4 linked regions of the Homo sapiens genome follow. The protein of the gene in region 2 interacts with the protein of the main gene of each other region in a pairwise test. Each region holds a gene or a part of one and is shown on either strand. Other genes may lie near its edges.

Evidence for each region. Proteins that work in one complex are often made in the same cells at the same time.
Region 1: the proteins of UBAP2 (region 2) and FNDC3B interact in binary tests that used the Homo sapiens proteins (3 or more experiments, as listed by UniProt).
Region 3: the proteins of UBAP2 (region 2) and MGAT5B interact in a two-hybrid assay, tested with the Homo sapiens proteins (one large-scale study listed by BioGRID).
Region 4: the proteins of UBAP2 (region 2) and ZNF34 interact in a two-hybrid assay, tested with the Homo sapiens proteins (one large-scale study listed by BioGRID).

The regions. Positions count from the first base shown.
Region 1 is NC_000003.12:172,046,078-172,049,577, forward strand, and holds part of FNDC3B (fibronectin type III domain-containing protein 3B), read left to right. Parts: intron 1-3,500. UniProt on the Homo sapiens protein: May be a positive regulator of adipogenesis.
Region 2 is NC_000009.12:33,944,388-33,947,887, reverse strand, and holds part of UBAP2 (ubiquitin-associated protein 2), read left to right. Parts: intron 1-3,248; coding exon 3,249-3,500. UniProt on the Homo sapiens protein: Recruits the ubiquitination machinery to RNA polymerase II for polyubiquitination, removal and degradation, when the transcription-coupled nucleotide excision repair (TC-NER) machinery fails to resolve DNA damage. May promote the degradation of ANXA2.
Region 3 is NC_000017.11:76,944,904-76,948,403, reverse strand, and holds part of MGAT5B (alpha-1,6-mannosylglycoprotein 6-beta-N-acetylglucosaminyltransferase B), read right to left. Parts: exon of another isoform or gene 3,147-3,500; intron 2,029-3,146; coding exon 1,954-2,028; intron 575-1,953; coding exon 318-574; intron 1-317. UniProt on the Homo sapiens protein: Glycosyltransferase that acts on alpha-linked mannose of N-glycans and O-mannosyl glycans.
Region 4 is NC_000008.11:144,777,318-144,780,817, forward strand, and holds part of ZNF34 (zinc finger protein 34), read right to left. Parts: intron 2,964-3,500; 5' UTR 2,924-2,963; coding exon of another isoform or gene 2,915-2,923; 5' UTR 2,911-2,914; intron 1,209-2,910; coding exon of another isoform or gene 1,155-1,208; coding exon 1,122-1,154; intron 848-1,121; coding exon 721-847; intron 261-720; coding exon 141-260; intron 1-140. UniProt on the Homo sapiens protein: May be involved in transcriptional regulation.

The sequences.
Region 1 (3,500 bases), on a different chromosome or scaffold from region 2:
TGAAGATCAGGGGACAGAAATGTTTTTAAAACCACCAAGTATAAATCACATAAGATCGATAGACAGTCGTGATCAGCCATCTACATACAGATGAGGATGTTTGTCAGTTTGAAAATGGATCGATTGTTGAATTTTTCTTTGTTTCTCCCCAGTTAAGATATGCAAGTTTAGCATTCTGTAAGTGTTGGATCAGAATTTCTGATGCCCTTGGCACTCACTACTCAGTGTCAGTTTAGACATTGGCTCCTAATTTTTTTTCTTTTTCTTTTTTAAGATACAGTGTTTCACTGCTGCTGGAGTGCAGTGGCTCTATCATAGCTTACTATGGCTTCGAACTCCTGGGCTCAAGTGATCCTTGAGTAGGGCTATAGCTAGGACTATAGGTTCACGCCACCATGCCTGGCTAATGTTTTTTTTTTTATTTTTATAGAGACAGGGTTTCACTTTGTGGCTCAGGCTGGTCTCTAACTTCTGGCTTGAAGCAATCCCCCCGCTTCAGCCTCCCAAAATGTTGGGATTATAGGTTATGAGCCACCTTGCCCGGCCCTGTTTTGTTTTTATAATATCATTAAAATACCTCATCAGTTTCAAATAACCATTTTGCAGGGTGGTAGGGGATTTTTCTGAGATGGTGTTGAGTCACAGTGTTATTTGAGGTTCTAGTAAGTATCAAAGTGTGTCTTGTGTTAAATGATTCTATTTGAGCTTAAAATGTAATTTCATTTCAGTTACTTGTTTATTGACTCAGAATGCATTTGTTGAGATCTAGACCAGGTTCTTTGTTAATGGAATGTTCTACTCTGTTCTGATGTTTTTGGAATCTTGTATAGAGAACAGTGTCTACCACCAAACTCCTAAGGCTGGATGGTGGTAAGTTCAACTCTTTGCTACCTTCTGAAATTTGAGAAATAGTAAAATTGGAGCACCTTCAGGCTGTGTTAGACTTTAAGGCTTCTAAATTATATTAGAATGTAAGGATACATCTTTGTTTTGACCCTGGAAAGAGTAGTAAAGATTTTCATAAAGGCCAACTAGTCATAAAAACTTACTTAAATTGACATGATCCTAACTCACAATTATGAAAAGCTTTCTGTTGAAATAATTGTGTAGAAAGTGATCTTTATACATGAACAAAGGTGGGATGTTTTAGAAATAATTGAAGATTCTAAGATCCCAGGAAATATAATGGTTTAATTTATTTTTAAGGGATTTAAGATTCCCCATAGCCTATGAAAGAGGGGTCTCTATTAAAAATAACGCCATTGTTCTAGATGTAGCTAATTAGGGATTTGCAATTATCTAGGCAAGGCTAGGATAAAGTTTGGCTGCCTATTCTGTATGAAAAGGTTTTACTGTAAATATCAAGTTTAAATAGATCTTAAGAGGAATATTTACCTAATTAAAAGAACAAACCACTTTTAAGCACCTTGGGAAAATCAATTTACTTAAAAGCAGTGTAAAAATGCAGAATGCATTCACTGATGCTGGTCTGCTGGTGGTCTTTTCATAGAGATACAGGAGCCCCTGGAAAGTCAGTGCTCTCTGTGGATTGCCATGAAATAAATATTGATTGACTCAATGCTATTATGTGAACTACAAACAGTTTACCAGCAATGGGTAGAACTATATTATTTGCTTGCAAAATACATCACAACAATAAACACAATATCTGCCTCCCCCACCCCACTCCACTCTACCAATAGACTCCAACTATGCCTATTTATTGGTTTTGGAGTTTTTCTATTGACATTTGTTTTGCTACTTGTTAACTTCTTTTGTCATGTGTAAGCATTTGATGGCAGATTGGGGACAGCAGGTGTTAAAGGTTTAAGAGCATCATTATTGCTTTTAGCTTCATTTCTTCTGCCTTTGTGTTTGGGCAAGATTGTGGAGAGTCCTGAGTTTAGTATTTAGATAAGGTAATTACATGTCCTTCTCCTCTACTTTTACTAAAGCAAGATCCTCCTGGGCAGCTTAGTTCCAGGTACTGTATGAACTTGCCAGTAATAAGAGTAAGTTTCTTTTAAAAGATTTCTGGATATTTTACGTTTTATACTCAGTCACTCAGATGCGAGGTTTTCTAGTATGTGTCTACTTAGGGGTCAGATTTGACCAGTTTTTAACAGTACAAGTTGTACATATAGGATACTTAATGTATTTCTAGGATATTATGCTTCATTTTCTCTTAGTATTTTAAAGGTTTTAAAAAACCCATTCTATACCTTCTATATCTTTTATTGTTTAAGTCATTCAATGGGAAAGAAAATAATAAAAGTCTTTAGATGCTGTTTCTGATTTTTCGATCATGGTTTTTTTAATCTCAAGAAAAATAATTCTGATTAAGAAATAGAGGTAAACATTATTCTGAAGTAGTGAATTAGAGAATACTTAAATATATTGAGCTGGAATCCTTGTGTATTGCATGTTGGGAATGTTAAATGATAAAGCTACTGTGGAAAACAGTTCTGTAGTTCATAAATATTTACACATAGAATTACTATATGATTCAGCAATTCCATTCCTATTCCTATACGCAAAAGAAAGCAGGGACTCAGGTACTTAAAAGCCAGTGTTTATAGCAGCATTATTGACAATACCTAAAAGGTAGAAACAACCCATGCCCATCAACAGATGAATGGATAAACAAAATATGGTATTATATATTGGAATATTTTGGTACAGTGGAATATTATTCAGCCATAAAAAAGAAGGCAGTTCTAATACATGCCATAACATGAATGAATCTTGAAAACATTATGCTAAGTGAAATAAGCCGGACACAAGAAGATAAATATTGTATATATCCACTTGCATGAGATGACTAGGATAGGTAAATTCATAGAGACAAAAAGTAGAATAGAGATTACCAGGGCTTGGGGGAAGGGAAGATGGAGAGATAGTGTTTCATGGGTTTAGAATTTCTGTTTGGGATGATAAAAAATTTCTGGAAATGAACAGTGGCGATGGTTGTACAACATTATGAATGTATGTAATGCCACTAAGTTGAATGCAGAAAATGGTAAATTTTTTGTTATGTATATTTTATGACAATTAAAAAATGCAAAAGTAAATATTGAAGATGTATCCTACACAGTCTCCATATGCCTCTTTACTCCCCCTTGGTCTGCTTCAGGCAGGTATATAGTTATTTTTTCTTCATCTGGCTGTTGCAGTGTAAATGGAGATTTCCCTAGGCCATTTTTTGGAGATCAGAGAGTTTCCTTATTTTATTAACTGACTTAAATTTAAGAGGAAAATGTTTAAAAGTAGATCTCTGGAGGGGAAAAAAGGGCATTTTAATATTGAGATGAATCAGGGAGTTTGTTAATATTGGCAGACCATGTAAGCACATGAAGATAATCTATCCTGAATAGCACAGCGAGTCATTTAGAAATCCAGTAGTAGGTGTACACTCGGACCTGTCACATTTTCTAACCTTTAAACATTGTTTTTTGTTTCTTTTTTTTGAGATAGAATTTCGCTCTTATTGTCCAGGGTGG
Region 2 (3,500 bases):
ATGTGCACCACTGTATCCAGCCTAGACAATATTTTACTCTATTATTTTATTTTTTTTTTTTTTGAGTCAGGATCTTGCTCTGTTGCACAGGCTGGAGTACAGTGGCACAGTAACGCGTCACTGCCATCTTGACCTCCCAGGCTCAGTCCATCCTCCCACCTCAGCCTCTCTAGTAGGTGGGACTATAGGCACATGCCGTCACTCCTGGCTGATTTTTTTGTATTTTTTTAATGTGACAGGGGTTTGCCATGTTGCCCAGGCTGGTCTGGAACTCCTGGACTAAGGTGATCTGCCCACCTCGGCCTCCAAAAGTGCTGAGATCACAGGTGTGAGCCACCACGCCCGGCCTGGACAGTATTTTAACTATCACACTCTCATGCTTTCTCATTCTAACATTTTGAAGTATCAACTATGATTTCATCAACCTTTACATTCCGTGGTTTGTATTGTAAAGGTCCCATGTGTAGACTGGATGTTTTCTAAACTAAACTCCCACAGAAATTGTGACATTAAGCCACCATTCCCCACCAGCACTCACATGCCACACTGTATTAAGGAATAGCAGGGGATTTCATTCATTGTGGAGCTGGCCATGTGGGCTGGTTTATGGTTAGGGCATATAGAGAGACAGGGAAGCATATTCCTCTGTTCTGTGAAATGACTTACTGTGTTGGAAGTACATGAGACCACTCCGGGGTTTGAAGCGATGTCTACCAAGGGAAATCATTAGAGACTCAGTGCCCAAAGTTTTTGCTGGGGCAAGAAATGTAGGTACCCTGTGCCTACATTTTTTGCTATAGCACATAGCAAAATTACAGATTCCTAGAAGGAAAGCAGATGTTGAGCATAAACCACATTGTTTATACAGACATTCTTAGCACAGTGAGCCACTCTTAATAGGTTAGTGTGTTGGCACCCTTTGCCAAGTACATACCAGCAGTCCAAATTCTCAGACATTAGCCAAGGTCCAGTCATCAAGCAGGCCTTTTTGAGAGGAATTGTAGGTCCCTATATTAACTTTTTCTGCACACATAACTAGTGAGTGATAGGACTTTTTAGATAGAACCATGCTATTCCCATATTCTTTATAAAACCTGTGTGTTTGGTGCATGCCTATAATACCAAGTTCAAAAATGAATGCGCCTAAACCAGCTCTGCCATTTGTTTTTTTTTAAATTAAATTCTGTTGACACTCAGCTAGCTGGGCACAGTGGCTCATGTAATCCCAGCACTTGGGGAGGCAGAAGGAGGAGGATTGCTTGAGCAGGAGTTCGAGACCAGCCTGGGCAACGTGATGAGACACAAAGGCTAAAATATTAGGTTGTTGTACTATCTGGCCCCATAGAGAAAAAGAGGGCCAACCTCTGTCCCATATGGTAGAACTGGCTTTTCAAATCAGTAGTGAAAAAACGCTTTATTAAAACCGTTTGAAAAATGAAGTTGGATCTCTATGCCAAAATGCCAGTGGGTCAGATAGTTAAACATAAATAGTGAATCTAGAACTATAATAGAGAAAACACAGGAGAATTTTTTTGTTGTTCTGTGTGAGGGAGACCTTTCTGGGTATGGCAGAAAACACCAAATTAGGCAGACAAACAATGAAAAAAATACTCAAAATTTGTATCATAGACAAAAAGAGTTAATTTCCTTAATATAAAAAGAGTAAAAATAAAGCAGATCAACAAACAGGTTAAAAAACTGGCTAAAGAGATAAGAACAGTCTATAAGTAAAGAACACTTAAGTATATGAAATGATACTTAGCACATTTGTATCATTTTAGTTTGTATTTTTTAATACCATTTTCCACCAATTAAACCAGGAGATTCAAAAGTGTTTGATATTAGAGTGTGTTAAAAAGGATGTGTTCTATCTGTGGACAGTAATTTTATAATATTTATCAAAATTCAAAATATATTTACCCTGTGAAGGGGCAACTTTATCCTACCAGTTGATCCTACAGGTATACTTGTACTTGCACAAAATATCTTACATACAAATGTATTCATTAGTGCATTGCTTTTAATAGCATAAGATTTGACCTAAAAGTCCATTAATATAGTACTGGTTTTATAAAATGATACCTATGTGTACTAGATTTCTGTGTAGTCACCAAAATGAGTATGAAGTAGCTCTTTGAACATTAATGTGAGACACTCAATGGAAATTAAATGATTTGTGAGACAGTAAGGTATATAGTGTGTGTATATATATGTCTGTCTGTCTGTCTGTCTATATATATTGTGATATAGTATCTCTGAAAGAGACATTCAGGAAAACCGGGTACAGTGTTTGCCTTTGTGGAGCAAGTATGGGAGAGTGGTGTGGAAGAGAAACATAATATTCGTCATACATATTCTTGTATCTATTGGATTTTGTTTTTTGTTTGTTTGTTTGTCACCCAGTCTGTCACCCAGGCTGGAGTGCAGTGGCGCCATCTCAGCTCACTGCAAGCTCCGCCTCCCGGGTTCACGTCATAGGGCCTGCCTCAGCCTCCCGAGTAGCTGGGACTACAGGTGCCCACCACCACACCCGGCTAATTTTTTTGTATTTTTAGTAGAGATGGGGTTTCACCATGTTAGCCAGGATGGTCTTGATCTCCTGACTTCGTGATCTGCCTGCCTCGGCCTCCCAAAGTGTTGGGATTACAGGCGTGAGCCACTGCGCCCAGCCATCTTTTGGATTTTGTAACATCATATATATATATATATCAATTAGTCCAAAAACTTAATAAGTTTTTTTTTTTTTAATTTTTGGATGAAGACATGGTCTTGTTTTGTCATCCAGGCTGGAATGCAGTGGTGCAATCATAGCTCACTGCAGCCTTGTACTCCTGGGCTAAAGCAATCCTCCCACCTCAGCCTCCCAAAGTGCTGGCATTATAGGCATGAGTGACTGTGCCTGGCTCAAATTTTTAACAGTTATGTAGAAAATCCATAAAATAATAAAAGTATGATTCTCTGTTAGCTAATGGTCAGGTGTGTATAGCACCATAATATTGTTCTCACGAGTTCATCACTCCCTATGCTTAAACATAAACCAAATCTCTCTGGATAGGAAACAAGGTGTGTACCCATTTAGGAACTTTTCCCGTTTATCATAAATGAAGTGTTACACATAGTGTGTGTAAAACCTAAGAAATTCAACTGGAAATGATTTGGAGAAATTGGTGGTAATAGAACACTTCATGTTCTATTGAAGAACATTGTGAAGCCATTATGCCTCATTAATTGCTGCTTACTTTTTTTAGACTTCAAATCTCAACCTGAGCCATCCCCAGTTCTTAGCCAGTTGAGCCAGCGACAACAGCACCAGAGCCAGGCAGTCACTGTTCCTCCTCCTGGTTTGGAGTCCTTTCCTTCCCAGGCAAAACTTCGAGAATCAACACCTGGAGACAGTCCCTCCACTGTGAACAAGCTTTTGCAGCTTCCCAGCACGACCATTGAAAATATCTCTGTGTCTGTCCACCAGCCACAGCCCAAACACATCAAACTTGCTAAGC
Region 3 (3,500 bases), on a different chromosome or scaffold from region 2:
GAGGAGCACCTGGGACAGCTTTCATGGTCTGGGACAGGACGATGCCCACAGGCTGGGCAGGGGGCTGAGTGGGTGGAAGAGAGCAGGCAATGGAAGGAGCTTTCCCTGGTAGTTTAGGGTTTGGCCAAGAGTAGGGCAGCAATGACCTGGATAATGGCCTGGAGGATCCCTTCTGGATCCTTCCTGACTCATTGGAAAGCATTACATCCCCCCACACTGGCAGGGCTGAGGGCCGGTTCTGGGCATGAGAGCTCTCAGTGAACCCGGCTGGGCCAGCGATGATAGCGGCTGGGTGGGGAGGGTGGGGGAACACTCACTTGAGGAAGGCGTCCTGGCTGTTCAGGAAGGGGAAGAAGGAGGGCTCACAGATTAGCCCGTGGTCCAGGCAGGTGTCGGTGCAGGCCCTCCCAGGCACGGCCAGCCAGGCCCGCAGGGCGTGCGCGGGGGGCCAGGCCCCAGGAGCCAAGCTGGTGTTCCGAGCCCACTCGAGGTGGGTGGCATTGGGGGCCAGGACAAAGGGGCTCTGCGGGGCGTGGGCCTCTGGTAGGGCAGGGTCTGGAGCTCTGCAGAAGTCCTGCAAGGAGGAGAGCAGTGTCAGGGTGGGGAAGTGCGACCCAGGTGTGCCTGGGAGACACCTGAAGGTGTGGCCCTGCCGTGCCAGTACGAGCCACCACTACTGGGCGCTTACTGAATACCAGGTAGCTTTACCTGCATTATTTCATTTACTTCTCATGGACACTCGTGTCTCCAGATCGCTTACAGGAATTATGGAGGCTCAGAGGTCACGGCATCCGCCCAGGGCCTTGGGGTTGGATGGCAGAACAGGACTTGGATTCAGGGCCCTCTGCATCCTGTGTGCCCTGGAGCTGCCTCGATGCTCAGGTCAGGCTGGGGTTCCTACCCTGGGGCCCACGAGCCCTGCCCTCCATGGGGACAGGGCCCCAGGCTGGCTGTGAGGCTCTCCCTGCAGGGTTCAACTCCAGGGGCCGGAGGGCCCCGCGAATGCTTTTCTGTGAGCTTCCAGTCTGGGTCCAGTCCTGGGTTCTGGCCACGGCCCTGACCCTCACCCCCTCACCTGAATACACTCTCCCTTCTGGGGGTTTCAGTATTCCCATCTGTAAAGGGACAGGGGAGAACCAGACTCTCTCAGCCCCTAATATTGGTGGGGCCAACAAGATGGAAAGGGAGGTCACGTACTATCTGTGGAAATTTCTTACAGCCATACGGCCACCTGCCCCAGGGCCCTGAGCCCAAGGCCCACCCCAGGCATCACCCTGGACACCCGGGGCCTGCAGAGCCACGCTCCATCTGGGCCACCTGCAGCCCTCATGGTGGCTCAGATCCACCAGGATGCAGTGGAGGGCCAGGACTCCCCAGGAATAGGGCACGCCCTCCTCCTCACCCACGACTTCCAGGCACTCTGAGCACCCGTGGGAGGAGAAGGAGTGTACTCCTTGGACAGGTGCCTGCCCAGGCGCTCCCTCGGGGGCTGAGGTGGCCGAGTTTTTGAAACCGTGGGGCTGTCCCCTGGTTTCTCAGGGCAGAGATCCTAATCTCCCATTCCAGTCTCACTGCCATCCTTAGCAGGTGGGCGGAGAGTCTGGGGATCTTCACTTCCCATTCAGTTACCAAATCCCAATCAGTTAGCAGACTTTCGAACCACTGTTTTCTAAGAACGGAAGTCTTTGTGTTTCTGTTAGTGCCGTGGAGTTGGGCTCTAAGGCTGGGCCCAGACAGCAGGAGTGCCCGGAGTGTGCTGCTTTCCAGGCCCGCAGTCAGGCCTGCCTGTCTCCAGCCCTGAGGGAACTCTGGGAAGAGACTGGACAGGCTGGAGGAGGGAGCAGGGAGTTGGATGGTTTCACGGGTGCAGGGCCCTGGGCAGACAATGAAGCTGGCTCAGCCCCCTCCTCTGGTCTGACAGGATCTGGGGCAGGGACCAGAGGGCTCACTGACCTGGTGCTGGATGTAGGCGTGGATCCGCTCCAGCATCCCCTCGCAGGTGTACTCGTAGGGTAGGTAGGGGTCTACCTGTGGGAGGGATGGGCAGACACATGGGGCGGGAGAAGGCCCAGCCGTCGGGGGCCCTGCCATGCTCGGCATTGGGGGTGGAGGTCTGGTGGGCTCTCACATCCTGTGCCATGCCCAGGGAGCCGACCACCCCATCCACCTGGCCCTTCCACCCAGCTCAGAGTCCCCGTTCCCCGCACACCCTCCAGTAGCCCTCCGGGACTCAGGCTCAGGACCCACAAGGCCCAGCCTCATCCCTCCCCACCCCCTCCCAGGTCCCTGTCCCAACTGCAATGAGGATAAAGCTCAGCGCTGTGTCCCCTACTGGGCTTTGACACCTCCTCTTCCCACAGCCCACCCACCCTCTTAGGCATCACCTGCTCCAGGGAGCTTTCCCTGAGCCCCACCCCCACTCCTGTTACAGGAACACTTTCCTTGGTGACTCCCAGCACCCCAGACTTCCCCCAGCACAGAATGAGCCCCTGTGTTATTGTCTCCTGTGTATTCGTCATGTCTCTCATAAACTTATGGACACCTTGAGGGTGGGGACTATGGCTTGTTCACACTGAATCTCCAGTGCCTGGCACAGTGCCTGGCATACAGTGGGTGCTCAGGAAATAGTCATGGAATGAAAAGGCATCCCCAGCTCTGCCTGTATCCTGCCCAAGACATGGGACATTCATGCAGAGGAACACAGGGGCATCTCCCAGTCAGCGGGAATGAGATGACATTTGTAAAGTACCCTGCCCCCACAGGCACAAACCCCCAAACAGAGGCCACAGGTTGTCTGTCTAAATATCTAATAGTTAGCCCGGCACGGTGGCTCATGCCTGTAATCCCAGCACTTTGGGAGGCCGAGGTGGGCGGATCGCCTGAGGTCAGGAGTTCAAGACCAGCCTGGCCAACGTGGTGAAACCCGGCTCTACTAATACAAAAAAAATTAGCTAGGCGTGGTGGCAGGTGCCTGTAATCCCAGCTACTTGGGAGGCTGAGGCAGGAGAATCACTTGAACCTGGGAGGTGGAGGTTGCAGTGAGCTGAGACTGCACCATTGCACTCCAGCCTGGGCAACAGAGTGAGACTTTGTCTCAAAAATAAATAAATAAATAAATATCTAATAGTCACACAGCAACCTGTCCTGTGGGCAGATGCATGCAGTAGCTTGGGTAAAAGAAACCAGGGGAGTGGAGGGAAGAGTGACAGAGGAGTAAGGGGGTACTCCTGCCTCCCCCCGACTTCTTAACCAACCAACCCCTTCCTGTTCCATTAACCTTCTCAGGCCCAGTGCAGAGCCACCGTGGAGAAAATCACTGACCTGAAAGGGCAGGGGCAGCAGTCAGGACTCAGGAAGGAGCCATCCCGGACTCAGAGAAAGGTCTGTTTTAGGCTTCAACCTCCCCACCCCACCATGCCTGGTGGCACCTGACCTGGCCCAGCCCATCTCCTAATGAGGCCGCTTTCCCGTCTTTAGCCAGTGGGTGAAATCTAACTGTT
Region 4 (3,500 bases), on a different chromosome or scaffold from region 2:
CAGCAAAGGCCACTGTCAGGCCTCCTGTGCTAGCCCCGATGAATCTGGCCCACAAACTCCTGATTCATTAATCAGACACCCTGGACCCCAATAAAGGCTCGTTCGGTGACTTGAGTTGGGGAGCAGATCCCCTCACGCACCTGGGCTGTTGACTCTCAGGTGCTCTTTCCCAGAGGTGCCCTGAACATCCAGGACCCAGGGCTCATCCCCTCGCTCCAACTGCGAGATCACTCCAGGCTTGGGGCCTGCAGGTCCTACTCCTGGGAAGGAGACAGGGACTGGGGTTGGTACCAAGGACACAGGGCAGCACCTAGTGCTGTCTCACCCTGGGGCTGCAGGGTAAGGGAGGCACAGGCAGAGGGGGTGATGGAAGCCTGGACACTCTCTGGAGGGCACTGAGATTGGGCTGGGGCAGTCCTGAGCATAAGGGAATGAGAGCTCAGGGGTTCCCTCCACTAGGAGGTATGCAACTCCGCCCCCCCGGTGTCCCCCGCCCTACCAGGGAGGGGTCTGCCTGGGACCTGGGGCGAGAGGGAAGGGAAGGGCTGACTCAGGAAGGTCCCAGCACTGCTCTTCCCCTCATCTTCTCAGATCAGGTGCCTGCCTGGGATAAAGGTCATCACCTATCTGTGCCCAGGGGGTGAGGCCCCTAGCCCAGCCTCTGCTGAGCCCTTAGCCCCCAGGGCTGTTCCCAGAGCTGAGTTCTGGTGAGGGCCTTACCCAGTGAGACTAGGTTCCCGTAGGTCTCCAGCATCACGTCCCTGTAGAGGCCCCTCTGAGCAGGGCCCAGGCGGCCCCATTCCTCCCGGGAGAGGTACACAGCCACGTCCTCGAAGGTCACCTCGGCCTGGAATGACAGGGACTACTGCAGCCCAGGTGTGGTCCAGAGTGGGCTGGTAGGGGCGGGGAGGCAGCAGAAGCATGCTAAAGGCAGCAGCACAGTGGGTGGCCTGACCCATCTGCCACCGAGCCAGCTAATACATCCCAAGGGGTGGCTGCATGGGGGTCTCAGGGCCACCCCTACCATCATGTCAGCATCCCAAACCAGAGACACCTGGCAGTGTTTGCCAAGGAAAGCCCTGGGTAAAAACTTCACTCCTCCCAGGAGGACAGACACTCACCTGGGGTGGGGCAGACAGGAACAAGGCCGCCATTGCCTGAGGGTTGGGCTTTCTGAGGGCAGTGAGCAGGAGCTGGTCACTGAGGAGCTGAGGGAAGAGAACGCAACAAGTGGAGGCCCAGTCTGGCCCCTTCTTCCACAGCTCAGGCTACTTGGTGCTGCCATAAACAGCCCTGCCTGCCTCACTGGTCCACCCCTGCCCATCCCAATGTGGGTACTGCTAGCTGGCCTCCCGGACATAGACTCCACTCTTTGCCTGGGGCTGCCCTCTCCAGCTCCACCTCTTTTTTTTCTTTCTTTTTTTTTTAATGACATGACAGGGTTTCTCTTAGTTGCCCAGGCTAGAGGACAGTGGCGTGATCTCGGCTCACTGCAGCCTCGACCTCCTGAGCTCAAGCAGTTCTCTCACCTCAGCCTCCTGAGTAGCTAGGACTACAGGCGCGCACCACCACTGTTGGTGGAAGAGCTGAGGCAGGACTAGCTTGTCTGCCATAATGTAAAAGAGTCTGGGAACACGTCCTGGGTCCAGGGTCCAAACCCCCTCATGGCCTTTGGAACACCAAGCTCTGTGCCAAAGGGGGGAAGGCTGCCCTGCCGCTCCATAATCTAAGCCAAGGCATAAAAACCCTCATGGCTTGGATGGAATCCAGGGCTCAGGGCACAAAACCCCTTGTGGCTTGGATGGAATCCAGGGCTCAGGGCACAAAACCCCTCGTGGCTTGGATGGAATCCAGGGCTCAGGGCACAAAACCCTCATGGCCTCTGGAATGTGCACAGACTTGTTGGTTCCTTGCTTCTTGCTCTCCCAGGCTCATAAACATGTTCTCCATTATCTCAGGTAGCAGAGCATAGTACATATGTGTCAAAGAAAATGCTAAACCGTCACAGCTACGCTTGATGCACCGCTACCTTTCTATCCCCATGTCCTCATGTCCTCACCTGTCTACCCTCATGTCCGCACATCCTCACCACCTGCTTCTTTGTTCGATCATCAATAAATAGTGTGGGCTCCCAGAGCTTGGTGCCTTCACAGCCTCCATACTAGCGTTGGCCCCCTGGACCCACCTTAAGTACTCTTAACCTGTCTTTTCTCATTCCTTTGACTCCGCTGGACTTCATAGCCCCCATGGCCTGGTGTTGGGTCTGATCACCCCAACAATCACACCTGGCTAATTTTTGTATTTTTTTGTACAGATGGGGTTTTGCCCAGGCTGGTCTTGAACTCTTGAGCTCAAGCAATCCTCTTGCCTCGGCCTCCCAAAGTGCTGGGATTAAAGGAGTGCACCAAAGTGCCCAGCCTCCAGTCACCTCTACTGCCTGCTGCCCTCGGGCCGTCTATCCCCCTCCCTGCTCTGGCATGCTAAGCTGTCTCATTCAGGAGGAAAACGACAATACTCATTCACTTTACATGGAAGAATGAAGACAAAATGTTAAGGGCTAAGGAAGAAAAAATTAAAAATGATAGAAGGGGCCAAGCTCGGTGGCTCACACCTGTAATCCTAGCGCTTTGGGAGGCTGAGGCGGGAGGACAGCTTGAGCCCAGGAATTTGAGACAAGCCTGGGCAACATAGGGAGACCTTAATGCTACCAAAAAAAAAAAAAAAAAAAAATTAGCTGGCTGTGATGGCACACACCTGTAGTCCCAGCTACTTGGGAGGCTGAGGTGGGAGGATCACCTGGGCCCAGGAAGTAGAGGCTGCAGTGAGCTGTGATCGCACCACTGCACTCCAGCCTGGGCAACAAAGCAAAACCCTGTCTCAAAATAAATAAGTAAAATAAGATTGACTCACCTACCAGAAGCATGAGACTCTCGGATTAGATACATGTGATGCAACTATTTGGCCTAAAATAAAATAACACAGAAAGGCTAAGTATTAGTTAATATTAGATCAAACACTAGTTAAAATGAAGCTGTGGTAGCTATATATCTTTTCTGTATCTTTAAAGCTTTTTATTTAAGTATATTTTTATCATAAAAGTTGACAAATCCTGAGTACACAGTTCAGTGGACCATGACAAATTGCACAAGCCCATGGAACCAGCACCACAGTCAAGAAAGAACAGAACTGGCCGGGTGTGGTGGCTCACGCCTGCAATCCCAGCACTTTGGGAGGCTGAGGCGGGTGGATCACCTGAGGTCAGGAGTTCGAGACCAGCCTGGCCACCATGTGGTGAAACCCTGTCTCTACTAAAATACAAAAATTAGCCGGGCGTGGTGGCGGGCTCCTGTAATCCCAGCTACTCAGGAGGCTGAGGCAGGAGAATCGCTTGAACCCGGGAGGCGGAGGTTGTAGTGAGCCGAGATCGCGCCATCGCACTCCAGCCTGGGGGACAAGAGCAAGACTTCATCTCCAAAAAAAGAAAAGCAAAGAAAGCGAAA